Regions from separate parts of the Homo sapiens genome. Here all the other regions are reported to be linked to region 1. Evidence: microRNA targets listed by miRTarBase, many of them from high-throughput screens and not tested one by one. Region 1 holds a microRNA gene; each other region holds the end of a gene's coding sequence.

Region 1 (7,116 bases):
AAGGGGGATGAAGGTTGGGCCACCTAGCCAGGGCAGCCCTCTCTTTTGGGACTCTGCCCAACAGAAGGCAGACCTTAGACCTGCTGATGGCCCCATCCCAGAAACAGGTACCCCCAGACTGGCAGCCCCCTGCTGCATGGCATCTTGAGGAGAGGTGGGGGCTGTGCCCACTCAGGCAGGGACCATTCCCTGGTTGGCACAAAGCCCTATGTATGCTAGCAGTGGCCCTGCCCCATAGCCAGCTATACAAAGTGGGGTTCAGCAGCAGGCCGATGGAGGGAAGGACGGAGGCTGAGGTCTTCCATGGTGCCTGCTGACCCCTGCCCTGTATGGCCCAGGTCTCATTGGCTGGGCCCGACAGGACTGCAAACGAGATCAAGGTCACTGTGGGCAACCATGCTGGAAGAGCCTCTCACACAGACACAGAGAAGTGCCTGCACACTCAGGAGGGAACATGGGGAGGGTGTGGACTGAGGTGGCGGCCCTAGGCAGTCACCTGTACTTCCTAGAGTAAAGCTGGCTGATGCACCCACCATCTCCTGGGGGCAGCATGCCTGTGTGGAAGCACTGGAGAGCCGGTGAAATAGTTAAGAGATTTTATTCTAATAGCTATAATTACAGTGCTTGTTTGTCGAAATGAAAACTGAAAACAAGTATACAAAACAGTTGATTACTAATCGTGTATTGAAAGCAGTAAGAGGTTCCACGACACCAAATAGACCAGTTCTGAGGTTTCCCCAAGATAAATTTAACAGCTCCAGCTTCAGTGTTTATCAAAATACAAAAGAAAAAAGTAGAGGTTGTCTTTTTCGATGGCAAATCGGACCCTTGCAGGCTGAGGGAGAGAAAGCTACATCACACACAGAGGTGGGGTGCTCCCGAGGGGCTGTGGGTCTAGGTGGACCGCCTGCCCGGCTTGCACGCGCTCCTGCTGGTGAGGCCCCAGACATCCTGCCAAAGTGTCTGAGCGAGCACGAGTGTTGGGGACGACGGACCCACTCTGGCCACACGGCGACCGAGGGACAGATGGGGCCCTGCGTCCCATAGGCTGCCTGAAGGTGGGTAGGGCGGCCTGCGGCATAGTGGGGTGGCTGTGGGCTCCCAGCCTGGCCCCTGGGAACCGTGGGAGCACAGGGACAAGCACATGGCTATGGAATGCAGGGTGACCCAAGGACAAGCGAGTTGCGGGGATCTCTACTGTGACCATGCAGAATTGATCGCAGTCTGCTGCGCCACCACCACCTCATGTTCCCGAGGGGAACAGCTGGGCTGGCGACTGGCATCCAGGCCGTAACTGCAAATCTATGCTAGGCGGGGTCTCCCTTCTGTGTGTTCAAGTGTTCTCGACTTGGATTCTTAACTATTTTAAAAAATGCACTGAGTTTGGGTTAAAAACCAACCACCAAAATGGATTTCAACACAGCTCTAAAGCCAAGGGCGTGGCCGGCTCTCCCAACACAGCGACTCCTGGAGGCCAGGTGCCCATGGGCCTACATCCCCTCTCAGCACTGAACAGTGAGTTGATTTTTCTTTTTACAATAAAAAAAGCTGAGTAATATTGCATAGGAGTACCAGAAACTGCCTCATTGGAAACAAAAACTATTTACATTAAATAAAAAGCCTGGCCGCAGGCTGCGTCTGCCACATTTACAGCACGGTGCGATGCACACGGTGACCAAACCACGGAGGCAGCTTCTGGCACTCACACCACGAGCCGCACGTTTGCCACATGAGAGTAAAGCAGAGGGCAAGAGGAGTGAGAGGGAGGGGGGTCGCGTTCACTTCTGGTTCCGGAGCTGATTGGACAGCCAGTCCAGTCCTTCATAGAGCCCGTCGCCGCTGGTGGCGCAGGTGGCCTGAATGTACCAGTTCCTGTGGCGTAGTGAGTGCAGCCCCAGCTTGTCTGTGATCTCGGCCGCATTCATGGCGTTGGGGAGGTCCTGGGGGAAGGAAGGGTTGGTGGGAAGGGCTGTCCACAGGACAGAGAAAGGGGCCCCACCAGCCTCCAGTAACCCCTACCACCAGGCGGAACCCACACTGGCTCCTCACATTCCCCAGGCTGGCCCGGGCGCCTACCTGCTTGTTGGCGAACACCAGGAGGACAGCATCCCGGAGCTCGTCCTCGGCCAGCATCCTCATGAGCTCCTCACGGGCCTCGTTCACACGCTCTCTGTCATTGCTGTCCACCACGAAGATCAGGCCTGCCGGGCAGCCAGTGTCAAATGGTCATGGGAACACAGCCCCCCTGCCGCATCTATGGGCATCGATGCCCCATCTATGGGCTGGCCCCCCCTCTCTAGAAGCAGGAGTGCCCATGGGACCAGGCCCCAGCCACTTACCTTGTGTGTTCTGGAAGTAGTGGCGCCACAGGGGCCGGATCTTGTCCTGGCCACCCACGTCCCACACAGTGAAGCTGATGTTCTTGTACTCCACGGTTTCCACGTTGAAGCCTGGGTGCGGGATGCAGGGTGAGGCCTTGTACCTTGGCCCAGCCCAGCCCAGCCCACTCCCTGCTGGCCCCCACCTCACCTATGGTGGGAATGGTGGTCACGATCTCACCCAGCTTAAGCTTGTAGAGGATCGTGGTCTTCCCTGCAGCATCCAGGCCCACCATGAGGATGCGCATTTCTTTTTTGCCAAAAAGGCCCTTGAAGAGGTTGGCGAAGATGTTCCCCATGCTTGTGGACAGGTGGAAGGACACTGGCCAGGGACACCTGGAGAGACAAGGTGCTCCATGTCTGGTTCTGTGCTGCCCAGCAGTGGTTGCTCAGAACCCACCCACCCAGGGATGCACCACTGCCTCACCCCACCTCCTGGAAGCCTGCAGGGAAACAGGGAAAGAGCCCTGCCTCCCATGCCCCCCAAATCCACCTCAGGATGGGGGCTGAGGGAAAATGGCTGAGTCAGGAATTGAGAAACTGTTGCCCTCATCTTGGGAAGCTGTCCCCACAGCTGCATGGCCAGAAAGGCTGCCTCATCCCAGCCTATGCAGGAGGGGAGGCTGGCTGCCTGAGGACTGGCTTCCAGGTGCGTGCAAGGCTCCTCTACACCCCAACACAGAACCTTCCAGGGCCAGAGAGCACCACTCACTGTGCCTGCCCACACTCACAAGGACCAGAGCACACAGGGCCACGCCAGACTCAGCAGGACACCTTCAGGGACACACTCCCATGAGGACACAGCCTCGATGGGGCACGCCCGCCATGTCTGCCCCACACCGCAAGGGTAGGGGTTCCCTCAGCAGAACACAAATATCGGGGACAGCAATTAAGTCAGCTGGCACCCACCATCAGAGCCCTGCGGAGACTCCAGCAGGAAGGGCCTCCACTGCCCAGACGCCTCTGTGAGGACACTGAAGTTGTTAGGCTTTGGCCTCACTGGCCAGTGGGCAATTTCACGAATCAGGTGATTTTATCCCGAACAGGGACTTTAGAAAACACTGGTCACTTTCTGAAACAATGACTGCTTCTTCACTGCACCCGCAAGCGGGGCTTACCCCGAGTGAGGAAGGCTTCTGCCTTCAAGAGGACATGCCAGGAGCCTGTGAGCACACCCACCCCTCATCAGACCTCCTCCACCAGGGGTTCCACACACAGGTGGCTTTTGGCTGAATCACAGCCATGACTGTCCGCTGGTGACTCTCTCATCCAGTCACCCCAGCACGCTACGGCAAGGAAATGCCTCTTCTCCATTTCTCAACATCAGCAAGAGCCCACACATGCCTGTGTGTTTCAGTGGGTGTGAACTGGCCGCCCGTGTCTGATTTAACACTGCCATCATCCCAGATGAGCCACAGAACCCCTTCAAGCTGGATCAGTGTCCTTTGGACACTTTGCTCTTGGTTTTGAACATGTCACCTATTCTGAAATTTAAATGAGTTCTGAAATTTATAAGGACCTTCACTGTAGTGTTCCCTTTTTGGGGACGGCCAGGTTTTCTAAGCCCAGAGGAAGACCACCACCCATGGAGCACAGAAGAGACTGAATACCTGCCCTCTCAGTCCACTCCTGCAACCACTACCAATGAAGACACCAAAATGACACACACGCCTTGAAGGGCAGAGAGAAAAGGGAGGAAGACCTTGGATGTGATGATTGACCAGGCAGAGAAAACTGGACCGCCTGGGACCCAAGGGATGAAGCTGGGACTGCCTAGGGCAGCAATGTCCAATCTTGGCTACCCTGGGCCACAATGGAAGAAGAATTGTCTTGGACCACACACAAAATATACTAACACAACAGCTGGTGAACCAAACCAAAACAAAAACCCCCAAAATCTCAATGTTTTATTAGAAATTTGTGTTGGGTCGGGTTCAAAGCCATCCTGGGCCACATGCGGCCTAAGGGTTGGACAAGCTTGGTCTAGGGGAGCAGCTGCAGCAGGGCTTAGGCCTGCGCTGAGCCATGACAACACACTTGAGCCATGAAATTCCAGAATAATTCCTGAGAGTTCTATATGCCCCAGCAGATCCACACACAAGCAACTGGAGCTCCGCCCACCCCCACCCCCCACCAAGAGACAGGCCTGTCTGCCTTTGAAAGGCCACCAACATAAGAGACCCAAATATAAAAGGAATCTGCAAGGAGGCAACCAAGACAGGAGACTGAAGACAGAATACTATTTTAACAAAGGACAAGGAGAGAAACCTGATAGATACACAAATAGCTGAAAAGGAAAATTCAAAATGAAGGTGCTCAGAAGGCAGAACAAAAACAAACAGAATGAAAAAGGAAGATGAGGAGTAACTTAAGATATCAACCAACAGAAACCCTAAAAAGAAAGAACGTACGAAATTACGGGGTGAAATTTTTCCCTGTTCCAGAGTGGGGACCCAGGAATCTGGGCTTCGGCCTCAAAGGGCTGAAGCGCAAAGCCAAGGACCTAGATGAGACCCAATAAAGGTGCAAGGTGGACTCCAGAATGCACAGGGGCAAATGACACCTCTGATGCCCCAGAGAATGGAAGACTCTGAAACACTGCTTTCGAAACCCTTTAATTCTATACCCAGCCAAAGTATCCAACAAGTGTTAGGGGAGAATGAAAATAACTCCCAAACTGCAGGGCCTCAGATCTCTCACATGCTCCCTCCCTAAGAAGCTCCCCCAGGGAACCAGGGAGAGGATGCGAGCCCACAGCAACGTGGAGAGAGAGCAGCAGCCTAGCCAACCCCACATGGAGAGAGAGCAGCAGCCTAGCCAACCCCCTCAGACTGGAGCAGGAAGTGGACACCTGCAAGAATGGGGCACGCCACCTACGTATTCTTATTATGGGGTTGGGCAACTCTAGGCAATGCGGAAAAACTAATAATGACAGGTTCGCATGAAAAACCCAAGCATGAAATGGAACGAAAAGAGGGCCTTTTATGAGTTACTCCAGGAAAACATATGGTGGAGGATACTCAGGGAGTCCTGATGTTGTTATTACTAGGGGGTTGGAAAGCTGAGGCGAGGGTGTGTGGTGTCAAAGGCTTGTTAACTGTACAAGTTAACAAGTCTAGGAGGAATAAACCTAGGACACCAAGTCAGCAGGGACTCAGGAATAAGGGTCGCCTGCCAGTTGGGCAGAGGCAGCACCAGACTGCCACGACCACTGAAGCACAGCACTTGGGAGAATTGACAGTAACACCCAGCCACTCAGGGGAAGGGGTGTCACACCGTCACCAACCCCCTCGACCCCAGCACTGTCCGTGATCCACACATGCCTGCTGCCTCCTCATGCCCGGGGCAGTGCCGCCAACCATGCCCAGGAGATCATGCAGCCTGCAGGCAGTGGGGTTTGTGATGCCAGTAATCCCAGGCCCTCCCCATTGGTGGCTTTTTTTTTTTTTTTTTTTTTTGAGACAGAGTCTCACTCTGTCATCCAGGCTGGAGTGCAGTGGCTTGATCTCAGCTCACTGCAACCTCTCAGGTGCGATCTCGGCTCACTGCAACCTCTGCCTCCCAGGTTCGAGATTCTCTTGCCTCAGCTTCCCGAGTAGCTGGGACTACAGGCGCGTGCCACCACGCTGAGCTAATTTTTATTTTTATTTTTAGTAGAGACGGGGTTTCACCATGTTGGTCAGGGCTGGCCTCGAACCCCTGACCTCAGATGATCAGCCCACCTCGGCCTCCCAAAGTGCTGGGATTACAGGAGTGAGCCACCACGCCCGGATTTTTTTTTTTTTTTTTAACAGACCAAAGCGTTAAGAGTCCCCAAAGGAGGGAAGCCACCCTGCAATGGAATGGCAGAACCAGGATGGGTGAACCTGAAGTCTCAGGTGTCAAGACATCGGCACACAGACAGCTTGGTCTCTCCTACCGACAAGCACATCTGTGGCCCTGCTGCACATATGGGCAGAGGGTGGCTGGCACGTCCTGCCTCGGCATGTTCCAGCATCCCCACAGGACCCTATACCTGGCAGCCCCTACATCATTTACTGCTTCTGTGACAGATGGAGACCCAATAGAGTTTCCTAAGAGGGAGAAAGAGTCCACAGCAACCCCCACCCTCAATTCCAGGGCCTCTTGGTACGGGTCCTAACTTGTGTCATGCCCAGGCCAGGTGCTGTCACCCTTTCTTCCACCAGAGTCCCTGCACACAAGCCAAAACCCGCTTTTCAGGTTCATCGGAATTATCCTGTGGTAGGAGCAAACCTGACTTTCTCAGAGCCTTCCTGCTTGTACACAAGGGGACCCCTCACACTTTGAGAAGGGGCTGCCCAGCAGGAGGATGCCAGGAGCCACCAGTGGCTACTTCTCTTTCCTGACCACGCTGTGGGCTCCAACTCTGAGGAAAAAAAGTCTTTTAGGAAGAATGTTTCTTTCTTCAGTGAGGACCACAGACCAATGGTAAAGGTGGCCTTCAGGCATTACACCAAAGAACGGGACAGTCAACTCTGGCAGCTACATTCCCCGACACCTCACTGTGCCTGAACAGGGGCAGGGAGAAAATGTAGCTCTGTGAGTTCACATCCGTTTTGTGTCCATGAATGGATCCAACCAAACTGGTCCAGATGCACATGGGGTCCAGATGCCTCTGTGGCCTGTACCCAGACCACCAGCCAGTACTGTCCTCGGTCCCTTGCAGATCTCAGGGATACTTTGGCATGAGTCAGGGAAGGGAACAGGCGCAGGCGGA
Region 2 (7,100 bases), not on the chromosome of region 1:
CCGCCTGCTGCCTCTAATCTTATCGGCCGATTAGCCGAAGCCACAAACCCGGTGGCCTCGATAGCGGGCTCAGAGCAGGGACGCCGGCTGGCATGTGCGCCGCGCGGGGCTTCGGACCACCGTCTCGGCTTCTCTTCGCTGCACCCTTTCACCCTTCCCCCTATCCAGGGCAGTTTCACCGAAACCCCGGCGCCCCGGGCGGATCCTTGAGCGGAGAGGGCGGGGCGGGAGCAGGAAGGCCGCGCTGTCGGGAGGGGCGGGGACCTGCCCGCTTGGCCCAGGTCTTGGACACCTGGGCGCCCCTGGCCCTCGGCAGAACACGGCGCCGGACAGAAGAGGTCCAGCGGTTAGTGGGCGCGGCCGGCGGCACGAAGGCTGGAGCCGCCTGCATTTCCAGCAATGACGGCGCCCTTTCCCCTCGCCCGCAGCGGCCTTGCAGGCCACTCGAGCCCTAATGGTGGTCTCCCTGGTGCTGGGCTTCCTGGCCATGTTTGTGGCCACGATGGGCATGAAGTGCACGCGCTGTGGGGGAGACGACAAAGTGAAGAAGGCCCGTATAGCCATGGGTGGAGGCATAATTTTCATCGTGGCAGGTGAGCCCCCGGGTTCTCCCATCTGGGAGGAGCAAGGCTGGGCAAGGCGCCCATTTGGGGCCTCACTATACTGAAACCCTCATTCTGTCTCCAGGTCTTGCCGCCTTGGTAGCTTGCTCCTGGTATGGCCATCAGATTGTCACAGACTTTTATAACCCTTTGATCCCTACCAACATTAAGTAAGTCTGGGAACCCTGCCTCCTAAGGGGACAGGTCTGGGGTCCTGGAATAGGGAGGAGGGCAGAGGCACGCCAGGGTTTCTAACCACCCCCTTCTCTTCACAGGTATGAGTTTGGCCCTGCCATCTTTATTGGCTGGGCAGGGTCTGCCCTAGTCATCCTGGGAGGTGCACTGCTCTCCTGTTCCTGTCCTGGGAATGAGAGCAAGGCTGGGTACCGTGTACCCCGCTCTTACCCTAAGTCCAACTCTTCCAAGGAGTATGTGTGACCTGGGATCTCCTTGCCCCAGCCTGACAGGCTATGGGAGTGTCTAGATGCCTGAAAGGGCCTGGGGCTGAGCTCAGCCTGTGGGCAGGGTGCCGGACAAAGGCCTCCTGGTCACTCTGTCCCTGCACTCCATGTATAGTCCTCTTGGGTTGGGGGTGGGGGGGTGCCGTTGGTGGGAGAGACAAAAAGAGGGAGAGTGTGCTTTTTGTACAGTAATAAAAAATAAGTATTGGGAAGCAGGCTTTTTTCCCTTCAGGGCCTCTGCTTTCCTCCCGTCCAGATCCTTGCAGGGAGCTTGGAACCTTAGTGCACCTACTTCAGTTCAGAACACTTAGCACCCCACTGACTCCACTGACAATTGACTAAAAGATGCAGGTGCTCGTATCTCGACATTCATTCCCACCCCCCTCTTATTTAAATAGCTACCAAAGTACTTCTTTTTTAATAAAAAAATAAAGATTTTTATTAGGTACGGGGGTGTTCTACTCTCTCACATTACCCCATGTCTTCATCCTACCTTCTGTCCTGATGAGACGCTGCTTCCTGGCTCACAAGGCGGGGCTCCATAGACAAGGGGAACCAAGGTGGGGCAGGGACAGGGTAAGGCTAACACAAACAATAGAAAGATGGTTCTGGGCCCAAAGTCTTCCCGCGCCCCCTCCAATTACAATCTAATCAAATCTGGCCAGTCAAATATCCAGGTCGTCATCTGGGTCTTCTTGGTCCAGGTCATCATAAGCATCTGGCTCATAGAAGATGTGGCTGGTAGCCTGCCCTGGCCTAGGCCGCAGGAGAGCCTGCTGTCTGAGAAGGGAAGATTTGGTGCTGGTGAGGGTAGCTAACAGGTTGGGTCTGGATACTTTCTTCCAGGTGACTGTGACTCTCATTCAGGCAACCTGTTAGGCCTCCATGTCATTTTATTGGTCCAAGTCCCTTTCTCTGACCTCCATGTTAGAGCTGAAGCACCATTTGGTACTGGGATAGATACCCTTGTACTGCTCTCCTAATAAAACCGTAAGTTCCTAGCAGCTTGAGGGCAAGGATCTTGTAGTCTTGCGTCATCCGCCCACATACTGGGCACAGAACAGCAAGCGTGTACTAAGCCCTTGTTAACCAGCCTCTGCCACGCCCATATAGCCTTCTGTCCTCCTAGCACCACTGCCTAGGGATAGGGCCACCTCCCAAGGGTCTGGTCTGGCTCAGCCCAGGCCCAGGGTGCTCTGGGGACAACTGGAGCTGTGACCCAAGGGTATAAGGGAGAGAAAAGAGACATAAAGGTCCTCTGCCATTATAGGGGGAATGGGTGGATCAAGAACTTGGACTTGTCTCTGGAGGTGGACTTCAGTCCCTATAAAGTCAGGTTAATCAATAACCTGTTGCCCCAACCTCTCCATGGCCCAGATGCTGGGATCTACTCAGGGATCCACGTACCCAGGTCCCAACCTTACTTTTCAGAACTGAACTGGAAGGGCAGGATCAGGCTATCTCTGGCTTCTCTCTCTTTCTTGGACAGGTGAAGGTTAAAGGTCAAATGAGTTGTGGGATCCACCTGTAGGTACAAAGGATGCTGCCACTCTGCCCCATCCCTAGAATCCCTGACCCCACCCCCAACCTCTGCAGCTTTTATTTTCTCTCCCGTGACCAGATACTAAACTACATTTCCTTGTTCTGGCCTTGGCATTCTTAGATACCGGGGGTATATGAGGATCGGAGTAGGGCTGGGACTCTACAGAGGGCCCCTCTTGGAGATCCAGGCTGAAGTCCGGAAGGATGGAGAACCACTGAGTCTGGAGAGAAAAAAGAAAAGAGTTTTTTTCATCTTACTGAAGAAACTAGACAGACTCCAGGACCTCACATCCTCAGCCCCCAATCACCTATTTAACTGACTGCTTTCAGCTCCTGCCCTCAACTTTTTTTTTTTTTTTTGAGACAGGGTCTGGCTTTGTTGCCCAGGCTGGAGTACAGTGGCGTGATCTTAGCTCACTGCAACCTCCGCCTCCCAGGTTCAAGTGATTCTCCTGCCTCAGCCTCCCGAGTAGCTGGGATTACAGGCACGTGCTACCACACCCAGCTAATTTTTGTCTTTTTAGTAGAGATGGGGTTTTGCTATATTGGCCAGGCTGGTCTCAAACCACTAACCTCAGGTGATCTGCCCACTTCGGCCTCCCAAAATGCTGGGATTACAGGTGTAAGCCACTGCGCCCAGCCTCTATTTTATTTTCAAAAGTGAAAGCAAGTTGATTAAGGAAGTAAAGGAATAAAAGGATGGCGACTCCTTAGGCAGAGCAGCCCACTTACTCCTTTTTTGAGACGGAGTCTCACTCTGTTGCCCAGGCTGGAGTGTAGTGGCATGATCTCGGCTCACCTCAACCTCCGCCTCCCAGGTTCAAGTGATTCTCCCACCTCAGCCTCCCGAATAGCTGGGACTACAGGCACCCACCACTATGCCCAGCTAATTTTTGTATTTTTAGTAGAGATGAGATTTCACCATGTTAGCCAGGCCGGTCTCGAACTCCTGACCTCACAATCTGCCCACCTCGGCCCCCCAAAGTGCTGGGATTATGGGCCTGAGCCACCTCGCCTGGGCCCCACTTACACTTTATAACCTTGGTAAGTGACTTAAATTTAAACCTCCTTGGGCCGGGTGCAGTGGATCACACCTGTAATCCCAGCACTTTGGGAGACCAAGGCCAGAGGATGGCTTGAGCCTAGTTATTCAAGACCAGCCTGGGCAACAGGGTGAGATCTCATCTGTATAAAAAACTAAAAAGCTGGCTGGATGTGGTGCTACATGCCTGTGCTCCCACCTCCAGCTACACCAGAGGCTGAGGCAGGAGGATCACTTGAACATGGGAGGTCAAAGCTGCCGTAAGTTATGATTGCACCACAGCACTCCAGCCTGGGCAACAGTGAGACCTTGTCCAATAAAAAAAAAAAAAAAAACTCCAAGGGAATAAAACCCTCCCTGGACTGGCTTTCCAGCCTGAAAAATGGTGATAATAAAACAATCTACCTTAACCATAGCTGAGAGGATTAAATGAAGTGAGTGATAGAAAACAGAGAAATACCTAAATCAGCTTTTTTTAAAAAAAGGTCTCACTGAGGGCTGGGCACAGTGGCTCACGTCTGTAATCCTAGCACTTTGGGAGGCTGAGGTGGAAGGATCACTTGAGCCCAGAAGTTTGAGACCACCCTGACCAACACAGTGAAACCCCATCTCTAAAAAAGTTTGTTTTTAAAGTCTCCTTGAAACATCAGCATTTTCATTGTTCTTCCCATCGTGCCACCCCTTTCTCTGTCCCCCGTTTCCAGTCCTTCTCTGTTGGTTCTTCTGACCTGGTCAGTTGGGCGCTGTCGGGGCCTCCGACACAGGATGTGGGCCGAGGCCTGGCCCATGGTACCGCCCAGGGTCACCTCAGTCTGAGCAAGGCTGCTGAGAGCTCCCACAGGGCCTGGTCCATGAAGCTCTTCATGTAGCAAGCCCAGCACACTCACTTTCCCCACTGAGGAGCTGTCACCTAGAGGAGGACAAGAAATGTAGGATAGTAGGGAGCATTCAGGTTGGTGGCCTGGGAGCTAACAGTGAAGAAGAGAGAGCCTCACAATTCCATCACAGTGCTGCCAAAATCCTGACGTCCCTTGGCCAATCTCACTACCGTGCTCTGAGCCTCCTCCAGCCCACACCTTAATCTCCTCTATCATCCCAATGTAAAGCTGATCAAGGCACCGCTCTAACTTCTATTCTTCAGCAGCTCCTGCCTTCAGGATGGAACGAACGCTTCCAGCAGGTGGTGTCCACTTACTTTCCAGCCTCATCTCTTACACACGGAAGTACTTGTAGTTTCTGGAACTTCCCAAGATCTCAGTCAGTGCCTTCAATTCTCTGCCTCCCTTTTTGGGAGCATTTAGAGAGTGTCAGGTACTATGCTAAACGCTTTAACACAATGTTTGAATCCTTACAAAGGTCAGCGTTTTTAGGTCAAACTGTATGAAATCACTGACATTTAACAATTTTTTTTTCTTTTCTTTTTCGAGATGGAGTCTTGCTCTGTCGCCCAGGCTAGAGTGCAGTGGCGCAATCTTGGCTTACTGCAACCCCTGCTACGGGCTCAACAATACTGCCTCAGTCTCCTGAGTAGCTGGGACTACAGGCGCGTGCCACCACGCCTGGCTAATTTTTGTATTTGGTAGAGACGGGGTTTCAGCATCTTGGCCAGGCTGGTCTTGAACTCCTGACCTCGTGATCTACCTGTCTTGGCCTCCCAAAATGCTGGGATTACAGGCATGAGCCTCTGCGCCCGGACTGTTTTTATTTTTTTGAGATGACGTCTTTCTCTGTCACCCAGGCTGCAGTACGGTGGCGTGATCTCAGCTCACTGCAACCTCTGCCTCCTGGGTTCAAGTGATTCTCCTGCCTCAGCCTCCCGAGTAGCTGGGATTACAGGCGTGCACCACCACACCCAGCTAATTTTTTGTATTTTTAGTAGAGACAGGGTTTCACCATGTTGGCCAGGCTGGTCTCCAACTCCAGGTGATCCGCCCGCCTTGGCCTCCCCAAGTGCTGGGATTACAGGCATGAGCCACTGCGCCCAGACAATATTTAACAACTTTTAACCTAAGAAATGGCAATATAGTGGTTCATCCTAATACTTCCCTTGTACCTTCCCCCATATACAGGGGAAAGTGAAGCAATGAGAGATCAAGCACCTTAATACAAAGCTGGGCGTCTGACTCCTAAGTCCATTCGAGTACCCACAGTGCACTTCAAGGCTAGTCTCAGTGCCCCTGCCCGGCCAAATTTGCCTGGATGACCTCTTGCTCTTCAAGAGAGTGCCTTTTTTTTTTTTTGAGATGGAGTCTTGCTCTGTCGCCCAGGCTGGAGTGCAGTGGCCCATCTCAGCTCACTGCAAGCTCCACCTCCCGGGTTCACGCCATTCTCCTGCCTCAGCCTCCCGGGTAGCTGGGACTAGAGGTGCCCGCCACCAAGCCCGGCTAATTTTTTTTTGTATTTTTAGTAGAGACGGGGTTTCACCATGTTAGCCAGGATGGTCTCGATCTCCTGACCTTGTGATCTACCCACCTCGGCCTCCCAAAGTGCTAGGATTACAGGAGTGAGCCACCGCGCCCGGCCAAGAGTGCCCTTCTTTAAGGTGCCCTGTGCATGCCTGTATCATCATGGCCTTTATCAGACCATCTTGTAACTGCCTGTTTACTTATCTCCATCTTTTATGGGACTTCGAGCTCCTGGAAGGCAAGGACCCAGCTACAGTCAGTCTGTATTTTGCCATTATCTAGAATTGTACCTGACACATTGTATATATTTACTATTGATTTGTTAAATGAATGAATGAGTGAAACAAATGAGTAAAAAAATAACTTGGAGAAAAAAAAGCAAATGGTAGATGGCATTAAGGAGAAGTAAAAAAAAAAAAAAACAGACAAAAAAGTCAAAAAAATGAAAAAAGGTCTGACTGGAGAACCCAGATGTTTATTCTAGGGTAGAAAGGAAAAGGGGCACACTCCTTGGCAGAGGGAGATGTATGAGGGGAAACAATGAAGGAGGGGTCTCACCAGGACAAGAGTCCTGATGGCTCACAGCATGCAGGACCTGGCAGAGTGTGGTGCAGGGAAGGCGAAGTAGCAGCCAGCTGAGTGAATCGAGAGCAATGGTGACAGGAACAGGATCTGTCCTCTTGCACATGGCTCTCAAGGCTCCCAGCGGCCCCCCAGGAAAGGCCTCCTCAGTTTTTGACCAGTTGAGAGGGTCTCTGAAGAAGTCATGGTAAACCAGCCTGCAAAGGGAAAATAAGACACAATATAATATTGCCCCTTCCCCCGAGAGGATCACAAAGTTCATCCTCTGATCTTTATGGCTGTTTTCTCAATTTTTATGAATATCCTAAATATTAGTGAAAGATAATTACTGAGAGAGAGCATACAGTGATTGAGAGCACAGACTTTGGTGTCTGACAGCCTGATCTCCAAGCTTGGCTTTGCTACTTGCCCAAGGTCAGCTAACTGATACATTATTTCTAAGAGTTGCCTCATTGGTGAAATGAGA
Region 3 (7,117 bases), not on the chromosome of region 1:
TAGAATGGGGTTTAATACTTTTCTACTCTCTCTGATTAAGTTTAGTGTAAAAATATGTTGGGCAGGGTTTGAGTCAAGATGAGTCAAGATGAATATTGATAATTCTATTTTAGTTTCATTTCCATGGTATTATTGATATATAATACATCTGTAGATTTTCTTAGTTTCCTGCTTTGGGTTTTTTTAAGCTTATTATGAATAGTTAACATTTAAAATTCTAAGCAGTTTATTTATGTTGAGCCCTTCCAGATAGGCTTTTACATTATAAAATTATTTTAGCTATTACTCTCATTTGTATGTTGCATAAATCTTTTTTCTCTCATTTACACATTTTAGTTTCAACTGCTTCTGAGGGAGCATCTTCCTTTTCTCCTTTATCCATGTCATCTCCTGATTTAGCCTCTCCAGAGAAGTCAGCTCATCTCTTATCACCAATTCTGGCCGGACCTTCCTTCTGGACTCTGTCCCATCAACAGTTGTCTTCTACCTCCTTTAAAGATGAAGATAAGACAGCCAAGCTGCATCACTCCTTTGCTTCTAGGGGCCCAGTGTCTTCTGATGTAGAGGAAAATGATAGCCTCAATCTACTGGGAATTCTTCCAAATAACTCTGATTCTGCTAAAAAGAATATAAGTCACATTTCTAGTAGTCACTGGGGGGAGTTTTCCACCCAAAATGTAGACCAGTTCATCCCTCTGTCCTGTTCTGGTTTTCAGTCAACCAAAGACTTCCCCCAGGAACCTGAAGCAAAGAATTCCATTAGTGTTCTTTTAAGGGAGGTAAAACGTGCGATCGCTAGATTACATGAAGATCTGAGCACAGTGATCCAAGAACTTAATGTCATCAATAACATCTTGATGAGCATGAGTCTGAATAGTTCACAAATAAGCCAGTCTTCCCAGGTCCCCCAGTCTTCTGAGGGGAGCTCAGATCAGATCTAATCATCACAATATCTATTTTTGATAGAACTCGTGTGGTTCCACTTCCCCAAGACTTACGTTAGCATTGTATAAATTCATATTATTATGGCAAAAAAGGGGATGGTTTAATTTTTCCTTGTCAGGTTTATTAGCAAGTATCTTTCAAACTAATACTTTCATTTGGGTGGTTTATTTTTTAAAAGGGAAAGATGTCACCTTTGATAATTTCAGATTTAGATATTAGTTCATTTGAAACAGAAGAGAATTTCATTCTTTCATGCTCTGTACCTCAAATGGGTTAAGCATTAGTGAAAATTGTGGTAAGACCTCAAACTGCAAATGACTATTCAAGAGCTTTTGGATAAGGAGGCAGGAAGAAGCTCTTTATCTTTCAACTGTATGGAGCTTGTTAACAAGCCTCTGAGGTGACCTAGGAGGATTGAGTTTGGGGGTATACATTTCACACATTCTTTTGCAAGTTTTAGGTTCTGCAACCAAGGGCCAGAAATCTTTTCTTTCTTCCAGATGCTAGTGTTAGGAGTTAAATGGAAACAAGAAGGACATGGGGCAAATGTTTTTACTGTCAATGTATATTGCAAGGTGAATTCAAATGCATCCTTTTATTCTACTTCAGAAAATAAATTTGATATTTTTCATCTTCTGTGTATCTTTTTAATTCATTAAGACAGCCTTTCAAATAGAAATGTCTGTTATTTATGGGCAAAACAGTCCGGTTTGGGGATTACAGGCCAGTGATTCCCAACCCTGCTGCACACTGGAATCACCACAGAAGCTTTTCTTTTGTTTTATATTTGTCTGAGAGAATCGTGTAATGGGCTCCATGTGCCCATCACTCAGTTTCAACAATTACCAACTCGAGGCTAAAATAATCCTGATTATTTTGAAGACATACGAAACATTTTAAAAATATACTAATGCCAGGGTCCTGCTCCCAGACAAATTGAAACTGGTTTTCATCATGCAGACTGGATTAAGTGATAAAGGAATTGTCAGTGAAAAGACCTTAAAGCTGGAGGAATTTGGCGTGGTTGAAGAATGGCAAGAAAGCTGGTGTGGCTGGAGTGAAGTGAGCAAAGGGGAGAGTAGACGGAGTTCAAGGTCATGGAGCAAAGATGACAGATGACATAGGTTCTTAAAAACCACTGTTAGAGAGACCTGGTGTGGCAGCTTACATCTGTAATCCCAGCACTTTGGGAGGCCGAGGCAGGTGGATCACGAGGTCAGGAGTTCAAGACCAGCCTGGGCAAGATGGTGAAATCCCGTCTCTACTAAAAATACAAAAAAAAATTAGCCGGGCATGGTGGCGGGCACCTGTAATCCCAGCTACTCGGGAGGCTGAGGCAGAGAATCGCTTGAACTCTGGAGGTGGAGCTTGCAGTGAGCCAAGATTGTGCCACTGCACTCCAGCCACTGGGCAACAGAGTGAGAATCCATCTCAAAAAAAAAAAAAAAATTGTTAGAGATTTTGGCTTCTACTCTGTGAAAATAAAAATTAGGATAGGGGTTTAGGATATAAAATGATATGTGACCTTTGATTCTTTTTTTTTTTTTTTTTTTTTTTTTTTTTTTTGAGATGGAGTCTTGCTTTGTCGCCCAGGCTGGAGTGCAATGGTGCGATCTTGGCTTGCTGCAACCTCTGCCTCCCGGGTTGAAGCAATTCTCCTGCCTCAGCCTCCCGGGTTGAAGCAATTCTCCTGCCTCAGCCTCCCAAGTAGCTGCATTACAGGTGCCCGCCACCACGCCCGGCTAATTTTTGTATTTTTAGTAGTTTCACCATGTTGGGCAGGATGGTCTTGATCCCTTGGCCTCATGATCCACCCGCCTCTGCCTCCCAAAGTGGTAGGATTACAGGTGTGAGCCACTGCGCCCGGCAACTTTGATTCTAAATGATTGCTCTTGCTTTGGCAGGGGAACTGGTACAAGAACATGGGGTGAGGCAGGGAAGCCAATTAGCAGGCTGTGGCAGATATCCAGATGAGAGCTTATGATGGCTCAAAGCAGGGTGGGCATAGTGAGGGTGAGTGAGAAGTTATTAGTTCAGGGATTCACTAATGGATTGGACAAAATATTTATAAGAGAAAGAAGAGTCAATGACAAACTCAAAGTATTGGACCAAGCAACAGAAATTCAAGATGACCTTGCCATCAACTGAGATGAGGAAGGCTATAGGTAAAGAAAATTTAGAGACATTCAATTTTTGATATGTTAATTTCAATTATCTGTTAGATAGCCAAGTAGGCACCTGGATGTGAAAGCCAAGTCTGTGAGGGAGTCTAGATTGGAATGGAGGCAGGCAGTTAGGATTTGGTGGTTATTTAAAACTATGAGATGAAATGAAATGACCAACAGGCTAAGCATGATCATGGAGAGAAGTTGAAGGCCTGAGTCCTAGGCGATTATAACAAAGAGATTAAGGAAAAGTTGAAGAGCCAATGAAGGAAACTGAGAACAAGCCATCACCCAGGTAGAATTAAACAATAGCGCGTTGTGTTTGGAAACCAAGAGTATACAGTTGTACATTGAATATATGCCCTTTACATAGATTCACCAGTTGTTAACATTTTGCCATGTTCACCTTATCTCCCTCTGTTGCTAAACATGTTTATATATGCATTATATCAATAGAGAGACATGTTTTACTGAACTTTGTGAAGGTAAGTTGCAGACATTTTGACACTTCACAACACTTATGGTGAACATACTAATTACATGATCAAGGGTAATTATTATCCAACTTACCTTCCAGTTAATCATTTCTCTCTTCAGCTATGTCTAGTCCATTGTCAAATCATCCCTCAGATTTTAATTAGGTTATTAGATTTTTTATTTCTAGAATTCTACTTGGTTCTTTTAAAATTTGCTACAGTTTTATAAGTCAATGTTTATTGCAGATATTTTCAAGTATATCTTTACTATTAAGAATAGTAACCAAACTAGTATAGAATTCTTACTGGTAAGAATATTAGGCCGGGCACGGTGGTTCATGCCTGTAATCCCAGCACTTTGAAAGGCCGAGGTGGGAGGGTCACTTGAGCCTAGGAGTTCGAGACCAGCCTGGGCAACATAGCTAGACTGTGTCTCTACAAAAAATAGAAAATTTAGCCGGGCATGGTGGCATGTGCCTGTGGTCCCAGCTACTCAGGAGGCTGAGATGGGAGGATTGTTTGGGCCTGAGAGATGGAGGTGGCAGTGAGCTGTGATCGCACCACTGCACTCCAGCCTGGGAGACAGAGTAAAACCCTGTCCAAAAAAAGAAAAATAAAGAATATTAAGTAAACTAGAGAGTATTCTTACCAGCAAACTAGTAATAATCATTTAATATATGTATTTAAGATTAAATAGCTTAAATGTATAGCTGCATCCCACAAAGCCTTTAAAGTTGAAATATAATTCACATACCATAAAATTTACCTTTTTAAGGTATATAATTCAGTGATTTCTACTGTATTCACAAGGTTGCACAGCCATCACCATTATCTAATTCCAGAACATTTAGGTCATCACAAAAAGGTACCTCATCCCCATTAGCAGCTGCTCCCCACACCCCCCTCCTCCAAGCCCCAGCAACCACTCATTTACTGTCTGTTTCCATGAACCTGCTTATTTTGGCTATTTCATACAAATGGAATTATATAATATAGCTTTTTGTGTTTGACTTCGTAGCATACTTTTTTGAGGTTCATTCATGTTTTAGCATGTAGCTTACATTCTTTTTGTGGCTGAGTAATATCCATTGTATGGATATACCACGTTTTGTTTATCCATTCATCAGTTGGTGGACATTTGGGTTGTTTACACTATTTGGCTATTGTGAATAATGGTGCTGTGAACATCTGTGTGAATGTGTTTCACTTCTGTTGGGCATATACCTAGAAGTAGAATTGCTGAGTCATATGGTAATTATGTTTACCTTGCTGAAGAACTGCCAAACTATTTTCCAGAGTGGCTGTACCATTTTACCATGAGTTTTGGTATACAGTATTTTCACTGTCTTTTGGCTCCAAATATATTCTAATTCCTATTATGAAGAAGTAGAGAGGTACATTTCCTAATTTTCATGCATATGGATAAACTAATAACAGCAAAAGTTAGTTTAGATCTTAGTTTTTGTTAATTTGATATCTCTGCTGGTTTGTGCTCATGGTGTTGCATTTCCTTGTGTGCCTGATTATCTTTGACTATGAGCTGGTCATGATACTTGGAAAATTATTTGTATGAATAATACGAGAACCTGCTTTTTATTTCTGCCAAGTGCCTAGTGTACTCCCACATAGGTTAAGTCAATTTAGGTCACGGCTTAAAGTTCTCTAGAATACCTAGGTTAATCCCAGACTTAAATTCCTCATAAGAGTTGGTTTATCTCCAATTCATTCTCACTGCATAGCTATTAGATTTCCCTTTATTGTAAGGAGCATCTCGTGTTAGACTTCCCACCTTTTATGAAGGTGATTTCTGTTCTTTCACCATCAAAATGGAAGTTGGAATTTGTTGGACTCAGCAAATGCCTTTAGGGAAAGGTGGCTTCTGCGATCATTTACCTATCAGGTGCCTGTCTGAGTACCTACTATTGTAAGGCTCGTACCAGGCCCTGAGAATACAAAAGGGAATGCAAATAAACTTCTTTATAAAATAAAATAAGAATTAAATATGAAGACATCTTCCATGGGCTTTCTTCATACATCTGGGAAATCTGCCAGTGGATTCCTAGGGAGTTACTACTGGGATACAGCATCCCCTTTTTGTACTGGCTGTAAAATTTCTTAGCTGTACATTGCTAAGAATGGAGAAGGGAAAAAGCCTCCAGAGATAAGCATTCCTCCCTCCCCATCCCCCTAACCAAAAGTTGCAGCATTGGGTGTCTTGAATACTCAGAGAAACCCCACAAATAACTGAGGCAGCAACAACTATCCCTTTAAGAAACTACCTTACTTACTCTGAGCTCACTACATGCACATGGTAACCTCAGATTTTAACTAGGTTTTAGAGAGCTCATATATTTTAATGCAACCATGCAAACATTTGTTAATTAGTATAATTAACAAGCACTTATTTGAGCCTCTATTTAGCCAATTCCATTAAATGAAGAGAACAAAGTTGGCTTAAATTAAGAGTGGCTGTATTCTGATTGACTTGGTAATTATCTTAGGTTAAAAATACTTCATTAGATGTTATTCTCTTAAGTACTTTGGCACTTGAGGATCCTACTTTATAAGGCGGTTATAAAAATATTTTACAGTTTGCTTACTGTCAAATTACTGGTGTGTTCATTCTTTAAATATGTATTAAGCACCTATGATGAGTAGGCAGTTTGCTAGACACTGAGGACACCATAGTGAGCAGGATGGATGGGTGTGCTTACTGCCTTCGGAGCTAGTTCAGTGGAGACACAGACAGCTAAGTGGGTAGTTACTGTCAATATTTAGGTCCTATAAATTTGAGCACAGCGTGGTGTGGCAGAGCCTGATAAAGCGGGACAACCAGCTCCGATTAGGGCCTCAGGGGATGCTGCGTGGAGGAAATGAAGTCCAAATAGAATCCTGAAGGATAACTAGGAGTCAGTCCAGCAAAATGAGTTAGGGGAGAGAGGGCTTTCTAGGCAGAGAGGACAGCATGTTCAAAAGCTGGGGGCAAGAGAGAACTTGATGAGCTTGAATACAGGATGTACAAAACTAGTGGTGGGTCAGAAATTTGAATCACTGCAGTTTCAGATTTTATGCAGTGACACAGTAGGTGATGGTTAGGTGACCAGTGCAGACTGAATAAAAGAAAAAGACTGAGTGACAAGTAAATGGATCGTATTGAAAAATAGAGTGTCATAGAAATCTGGAGACTGAAGAGCTTCCAAAATCCATTCCAAATGAGTTCATTGTGACAATGGTTTGCCCTGAATATACAAGGAGTCCCTCCTTTTGTGTGCTTTCATTTTAAAGAGAAAGGGAATACTGAGAACAACTGGGTGAATCAGTTACATATTCAATATACTGGGGACTGGTTTTCTAGGTTTTACTTTATTTTTAATAGAGTAGATTCTGAGATGTGATAAAAGGGTTTAGTGTGTAGATTTGAGAGATTTTTATTTCTTGCAGAACACCAAGTAATTTAAGGAGGCCAAGCATATTATTGTTAAGCCAGAAGATATGTGCCACCTTTTATCAGCAGGCAGGCTTAGAAAAGAG
Region 4 (7,117 bases), not on the chromosome of region 1:
CGAAACTCCATCTCTACTAAAAATACGAAAATTAGCCGGGTGTGGTGGTGCGTGCCTGTAACCCCAGCTACTCGGGAGGCTGAGGGGCAGGAGAATCGCTTGAACTCAGGAGGCAGAGGTTGCAGTGAGCCGAGATGGTGCCACTGCACTCCAGCCTGGGTGACAAAGCAAGACTCCGTCTCAAAAAAAAAAAAAAAAAGTTAATTTATGTAAAAAATGTAACAGAGCTTGGCAAAGGCGGAGCCCCATACATGTGTTTGTTGCTGTTACTCTTATTATTTTAACATATTTTTCTTCCTTAATACAAACAGAACTCTTTCCCACTTGTTCCCTTCCTTCCTGCTTAGTTCATTGGTATGAGGATGTGAGACCCAGAGCTATGGCAACCATTTTGTGACCACAAGGCAACAAGTTTAGGGTGTGAAGCTATCATTTTGAGGAAGGTAGAACAAAAGAGTAGAAAACGGGGTCCTTGCTGATATTAATAAGCCATTGCACCAAACCCCAGAATCCCCTAACTCCAGACTTACTCTTAGGTGACATAACTGAATGTCTTTCTTGCTTAAGTCGTGTTAATTGGATTTTTCTGTTTCTTGTGGCCAAATGTATCCCCACAAATTCATCTCTGCATGGCCAGCACTGAACCCAGAGAATGTGGTCAATTAATATTTCATAAAAATTTTAATCATATAGGACATGTCTGAGCCCAGGCATATGAGTCTCTTCAATTATGAATGTTGCAATGGAAGAAAACAAGGTTGCAAATCTCTACTTGGAGATGCCAAGGCTTTATAGAAGAGATTTTGAACTGGATATATTTTAGTTTTGCCTGAGCAGCATCCATTACTCCTGGTAACAGTGCTTCAATTTTCCTTCGGAAATGACCTCCTTTCCTACTCCCTCATTTGGCTGGACACATGACTCCAATTTGATCAATTAGAGCAAGCACTCCATCTCCAGAGCACAGTAACAAGTTTTCCTTGTCCTCTCTCATGGTGGCCTTTGCTTAAGTGGTTCCCTCTGCTTAGGACAGTTCCCACCACTCTCCCACGACCAAGTCTTCACCTGGCTCATTTCCACAATATCACTTCCTCCTCCAAAAATCCTTCTGCATAGTACACCGGGGTTTCTATTGCTTTATTTTTTATTTTATATATATATGTGTGTATATATATATATATATGTGTATATATATATATATATGTGTGTATATATATATATATTTGTGTATATATATATATATATATATTTTTTTTTTTTTTTTTTTTTTTTGAGACAGAGTCTAGTTCTGTCACCCAGGCTGGAGTGCAGTGGTGCGATCTTGGCTCACTGCAACCTCCACCTCCCAGGTTCAAGTGATTCTCGTGCCTCATCCTCCTGAGTAGCTGGGATTACAGGCACCCGCCACCATGCATGGCTAATTTTTGTACTTTTAGTAGAGACAGGATTTTACCATGTTGGCCAGGCTGGTCTCGAACTCCTGACCTCAGGTGATCCACCCGCCTCAGCCTCCCAAAGTGCTGGGATTACAGGCATGAGCCACTGTGTCCAGCCTCTATTGCTTTTATATGCTCAACAAGCTTTCTTATTTTTTTTTCTTTTTTGAGACTAGCATATTACAGCAACAAGCTTTCTTTGTTTTATTTTTTTTTAAGATCTTGCTCTGTCATCCAGGCTGGAGTGCAGTGGCTCAATCATAGCTCACTGCTGCCTCAAACTCCTGGGCTCAAGACCACCTCCTGAGTAACTGGGACTACACGTACACACCACCATGCTTGGCTAATTTTTTATTTTTATTTTTGTAGAGACAGAGTCTCGCCATGTTGCCCAGGCTGGTCTCAAGCTCCTAGCCTCAAGTGATCATCCCACCTTGGCCTCCCAAAGTTCTGGAATTACAGGTATGAGCCACCACACCCAGCCAACAAGATTTCTTATCCTACTTTTTCTGGAGAGTATTTACCTTCAACCACATAAAATTGCCAATACTATACAATGTGTGACCTACAAAAATGGCAAGTTCATGTGGTTCAACCTAATATTTAGCAATCCCTACTTCCCAGGACACACAACCGGGACATAGGACCCACCCACCCCCTACCTGGCCAATCAAAGCATTCCATTCATTCCCTTGGATGCGGCAATCAGTGCAGGGGTTGCTATGTGACCTCGGCCAGGCCGATAAGAGCTCTTCCCTGAGATTTTTCTCTTAGGACTAGAGATTCTGCCATTTTATCTCTGGGCTCTGGAAAGATTGAGTCTGTGTCTGTAAATAAATGACCATTTTCCCCCGCCACATGCAGTTGAAAGGGATGAGTCTGAGCTGAGCCAAGCAGAGAAGAGAGCTGTGTAGGGAGAGTGTCTTGGTGGGGTTGAGTCTGGGTTCCTTTCTCTAAAGCTCTGTTCCTTGTAGCTTTGCAATCACCCCACAACTTTTTCTTTTTTTTTTTATTTTTGAGACGGAGTCTCACTCTGTCACCCAGGCTGGAATGCAGTGATGTAATCTCAAGTGATTCTCCTGCCTCAGCCTTTCAAGTAGCTGAAATCACAGGCACCCACCATGCCCAGCTGATTTTTGTATTTTTAGTAGAGATAGGGTTTCACCATGTTGGCGAGCCTGGTCTCGAACTCCTGACCTCAGGCGATCCTCCCACCTTGGCCTCCCAAAGTGCTGGGATTACGTGTCAGTCACTGCACCCACCCCCAATTCTGTTTTGAAGGTAGGCATACCTCACCCCAAAGCTGGGGTCTCCATAGAAATCAGACCACATACCACCCCTGGTAAAGACCCTTCATTGGCTTCCCATGGCCCCAAAGAATAAAATGTTAACTCTTGACCACACCTCACAAGGTTCTGTAGAACCCACTTGCTTCTCCCACCTACTCTCCTCTCACTCTTCCCACTTCAGTCCAGACACACTGCCTCCAACACATCAAGCACACTACTTCCTAAGGGTCTTTGCACATGCTGTTCCCTTTGCCAGGAATGCTTTTCCCTGCTTTTCTCACAATGCATTTATTTAGCTCTGTCATCACCATCCTTCACCCTCCCACCTAAAGTAGGCCTCAAAGTCATTCTCTATGCCATCATCCTGTTTTCATTCTTGGCACAACATTTATTTGCCACTGGACATGCATTATTTACTCGTTTTTGTTTGCTTGTTTTTTGGGTCTCACTCTGCCACACAGGCTGGAGTGCAGTGGTGCAATCAGGGCTCATTGCAGCCTCAACCTCCTGGACTCATTTAATTGCTTATTTGTTTATTTCTCCTCCCTCTAGAATATAGGCACCACGGAGCAGGGCTTTCTTGTTTTGTTTCATCTATTTTGTTCACTGCGATAGCCCCTACATAGGACCAGTTACATAATACATGCTCAATAATGCTTTATCAAGTGAATTAGAGACAAGATTCCTGATGGTTCTGTGTGCAGGTTGGAGGCAGTCAGCTTTCCAATCATGGCTCTGCTGTTAACTGGCTGTGTGATCTTGGAGATGCTCCTTAACCTCTCTGAGCTTCAGTTTCCTCATCTTGAAAATTGTGTGCACACACTGCATATACCTGTGCAGGCTTTAAATGCAGTCATACTTATTATTGGAGTAACTCCATTTCCTAAGCATTATGTGCCATGCACTGGGTTGCATGCTCTTTATCCGTGCATCAGGGAGGGTTTGGGAGCACTGTGCCTGGCTTGTGAAAAGCCCTCAGTACCTAGGAGTCGTCATGACTGACACAAATGAGGGTGGTTGGGCTCCTGGGTGAGGAAGCCTCCTGGCCTGTGATTCTCTGGTGCCTCTGTCCTAGCAGCCTCCCACCCTGTCTGCCTAGATCCATCCCCCTCCCTCCTGCTCCGTTTCTATTTCTGTCTTTCTCTCCTCCTCCCCTGGCCTCAGGGGGCCCCTGGCTGGCAAGAAGCCTTCCTCCTTCTTCCCCAAGATCAGGAAGGTGTTATCACTGCAGGGCCCCTGCAAGGACTGGGATGTCTGTCCCTCTCCTCTCCCCAACCAGCTTTCCTTCCCCAGCCACAGCCCTCAGCCTCACCTGAGAAACTCCTCTCCCCACACCATCCTCCATGCCCTCCGCCAGGGTCCCTCAGATTCCAGGCAGAGCGACACAAGAGGTCTTGTCCCTGAGCTCACCAGGCTAGCTGTGGATATCCAAGCTCAGCTAAGCTCATGGGGGCCATACCCCAGCTTCCGGACACAGACCCCAGAGGCAGCATAGTGTAGGGGTACAATCAAACTTCCAGCTCCGCTATTTATTCATTGGGGGGATGGAGGGACTACGGCAAGTGACTTCATCTCTCTGTGGTTCAGGTTCTTGTCTGTAAAATGGGACCAAGGATAGATCTACCCTACCCCACTGAGTTGTGAGGTCTCAGAGGGTGGAATGAATATTCAATAACTGCTCAGCAGTACAGTGCTCTAGTTGAGTATTAAAGGAGTTCAGGGAATGTCACCCCAAAATATGGCACCCTGGTATGCTGATTATTTTAAATTAAAGGCACTTAGAGATCCATAGATGCTGGAAGAGGCTTTCCTCCTATGTCTTCTTATCTGCCTAAAGATCAAAAAGAACACAAGTGCCTTCTGTCCTCTCCCTGACATTTCATTATCTTTAACAGGAAAAAAAGACAGAGAAATGTCTACACCTGGACGGACTTTGTCACAAGAAATTATCTGTCTGTCAGTCTCAAATTCCAGAGACATTTACAAGCTAAATTCTATCTCCTGGACCCATTTATTTTCCCCAAAATCATTTATTACCCCTCAAAATTGCCTTCCTTTCCCCATCTCCCCTCCTGTGAAGAAAGGTATATAAGTATATAAACCTCACTGGGTTATTGGGTAATCACTTTCCTGTGATTTTCCTAGTGCATGTTAAATACCCTCCATATTCCTTTTCTCTTGTTAATCTATTGTCAGCCCATTCCAGTGAAATTTCAGAGAGTGAAGGGGAAGCTGTCTTTTCACCCCTATAGTAGAGACTCAGAAGTTGGCCTGCCTGCCTTTTTAAATCCCAGTTTTACCACCTTGGGCCAGTTATTTAACTTTTCTGGGCCAAAATTCCCTCATCTGGAAAACAGGATAATAATACCGATATGTCCTGGTGTTGTGAGAATTAAATGACTTAAGTGCTTGGCACATAGTAAGTAAGTATTCACTAAGCGTTAGCTATTATGATCATTTTATTTTTGTGATTATTCCCCACCTCTAAGTCTCTCAGAGGATAAAAGCCTGTCTGCCAGTCTCCTCCGGCCCCAGTTAGTCATCTTCCCATCTTCCTTCAGTCTCACTTAGAGTCCTTATGCTGCAATCTAGGTCACCCTCCCCCAACACACACACACACACACACACACACACACACACACACACACTACACGCGGACACACATACAGACACACACACAGGTCAGCAGGGCCTCAGACACAGAAAAAAGTTTAATTCTGCTGCGGCGGAGGGTCCCGGCTCCGGTAGGGAGGGGGATTTGGTTTTGGATTTTGTTCGTGTGGGGATTTATTTGGGAGAGTCTGGTCCTTCCAGTGGGACCTGCCCGGGAGAATGAGTAAAGAGAAGAAATCAGGAGAGACAGGGAGACTAGACAAAACCAGGGAGGGCCGAGGGACAAGAGACGACAGGACAGAGAGAAAGGAGAGGCAAATAGGGAAAGACAGGCACTACAGAGAGACGACAAGAGGGCGGGATAGAGACAAACGAGGGAAACAGAGAAAGGGGGACCCCAAGCCAGACCCGACCGGACCAGGAATGTGCGTGGGGTGGGGTGGGAGGCTTTGGAGGCCGCCGCGGGACAGAATAGGATCTAGTCCAGCCAGATACAAGAAATGGGCCCCTCGCCCCGGCCCCGGGTGACGGGCTGGGGGAGGGGGCTCGTGTCTCAGTGCTGCAGTGTCAGGGGGCCCTGCCCCTCCCCGCGCTTCGCTGTGTAAGGCACCGGCTCCAGCGAGGTCCGCGAGCGCGCGAGGGGAGGGGTAGGAGGGGGGTCGAGGAGTCCATAGGGGAAGGGAGGCCGGCAGCCGGTCCCCGAACCCCGCCCTGGGCACGGGGGCGTGGCCTCGAGCCGCAGCCCGAGGCTGCCCCGCCCCCTCCCGGGGACAAGGGCGCGTCTCCACTCTGGTCCAATGTCTTGGCGCTGCGCTTTCTCCCAGTCCCGCCCCAGCGTCCGTGCGGCTGGGCGTTTGGTCTGCGGCACCCAGGCGTCCCGGCGCCCGCCCGCCGCTCACACGGTACTCTCCAGCATCCACTCGGTGCTGGTGAAAGCCAGGCACGCCCTGGCGGAGCCCAGCCCCAGGTCTCCATCCTCCCCGGCCGCGCCCCCTCCAGCCCCGTCCAGGTGCGGCGTGGACCGGTGGCGCTTTGTCCGCCGGGCGCGGCGCGGGTAACTGTGGCTCTGGAATAGTGCCCCGTAGTCCCCGTCGAACGAATAGCGCTGCTGCGGCCTCGGCCGGGCCGCGGCTCCCCCAGGAACTAGAGCTAGAGTAGGGGGCGCCGAGGTTGGTGGCTCCAGGGCGCCGGATCGGCTCCTTCGAGGGCCCACCGCGGCCCGAGACTCCTCCCCGGAAGTTTCCTCGGATGGCAGCAGGCACAGCGAGGTGGCCGAGCCGCCCAGAGAACGTCCAAGGACCACCTCCGGCTCCGCGGATGCCGTCTCGGCCTCCATGGCCTTGGCCTCGACGGCGACGGCGGGGGCAGCCTGGGACTCCACCTCGCGCAGCGCCTCGTAGTGGTCCTGGGCCGGCAGGGCCGGGGCCTGTGCCGCGCCTGTGCCTGCGCCGTTGGTCTGCGAGCACACGTGGCTGACCCGCGGGAGCGACCTGGAGCCCTTGACGCGGCGGCTGTCCCCGTCGCCATACACCTTATAGCGGATCATGAGCAGAACGATGAAGACGAGGACCGAGGCGACGATGACGCCCCCGATGGCGATGATCATGGTGCCGCCCAAGAAATGGGCCCTCAGCGGGCGGCAGGGCGCCGGATCCCCAGCGGTGGTGAACTGTACACAGCCCACCACTCGCGTTGCCGGCAGCGCTGTGGCCCCGTCGTCGTAGACCGCCAGCACGCACAAGTCGTAGGCACGGCCCGCCGCCAGGTCATTCACCAGGA

The links. The annotated mature microRNA hsa-miR-3620-3p reads UCACCCUGCAUCCCGCACCCAG and lies in region 1 at 2,451-2,472, opposite strand. An mRNA with a match to its seed (bases 2 to 7 or 8) in the 3' UTR can be bound and repressed. Matches are read on the target gene's strand: a 7mer-m8 pairs with bases 2 to 8, a 7mer-A1 pairs with bases 2 to 7 and ends in A, and an 8mer does both.
Region 2: miRTarBase lists CLDN7 as a target of hsa-miR-3620-3p. Seed matches in the 3' UTR shown: 7mer-m8 at 1,125-1,131.
Region 3: the mRNA of ENTHD1 is a reported target of hsa-miR-3620-3p. The part of its 3' UTR that is shown has no 7-base or 8-base seed match.
Region 4: miRTarBase lists LRFN1 as a target of hsa-miR-3620-3p. Seed matches in the 3' UTR shown: 7mer-A1 at 5,319-5,325.

Annotation. Positions count from the first base shown.
Region 1 is chr1:228,092,676-228,099,791 of GRCh38, reverse strand. MIR3620 (microRNA 3620) reads right to left here and starts at 2,529; the gene lies at 2,451-2,529. ARF1 (ARF GTPase 1) reads right to left here. Exons shown (of 5, transcript NM_001658.4): 2 at 2,530-2,714; 3 at 2,340-2,450; 4 at 2,077-2,201; 5 at 580-1,940. The coding sequence starts at 2,677. The coding sequence ends at 1,779. RefSeq lists enhancers at 1,357-2,556, 1,643-2,612, 2,613-3,582.
Region 2 is chr17:7,254,314-7,261,413 of GRCh38, reverse strand. CLDN7 (claudin 7) reads left to right here. Exons shown (of 4, transcript NM_001307.6): 2 at 429-593; 3 at 688-772; 4 at 878-1,511. The coding sequence ends at 1,040. ELP5 (elongator acetyltransferase complex subunit 5) reads right to left here. Exons shown (of 8, transcript NM_203414.3): 4 at 6,611-6,831; 5 at 4,376-4,557; 6 at 2,731-2,826; 7 at 2,488-2,588; 8 at 1,477-1,843. The coding sequence ends at 1,729. Among named protein-coding and RNA genes, the nearest start is that of CLDN7, 4.6 kb to the left of the region's middle. RefSeq lists enhancers at 1-96, 498-547 and a silencer at 168-297.
Region 3 is chr22:39,737,503-39,744,619 of GRCh38, reverse strand. It overlaps ENTHD1 (ENTH domain containing 1), which reads left to right. Exons shown (of 7, transcript NM_152512.4): 7 at 337-1,576. The coding sequence ends at 941. Among named protein-coding and RNA genes, the nearest start is that of ENTHD1, 150 kb to the left of the region's middle.
Region 4 is chr19:39,301,400-39,308,516 of GRCh38, forward strand. It overlaps LRFN1 (leucine rich repeat and fibronectin type III domain containing 1), which reads right to left. Exons shown (of 5, transcript NM_020862.2): 5 at 5,167-7,117. The coding sequence ends at 6,234. Among named protein-coding and RNA genes, the nearest start is that of IFNL1, 8.6 kb to the left of the region's middle. RefSeq lists an enhancer at 6,428-6,929.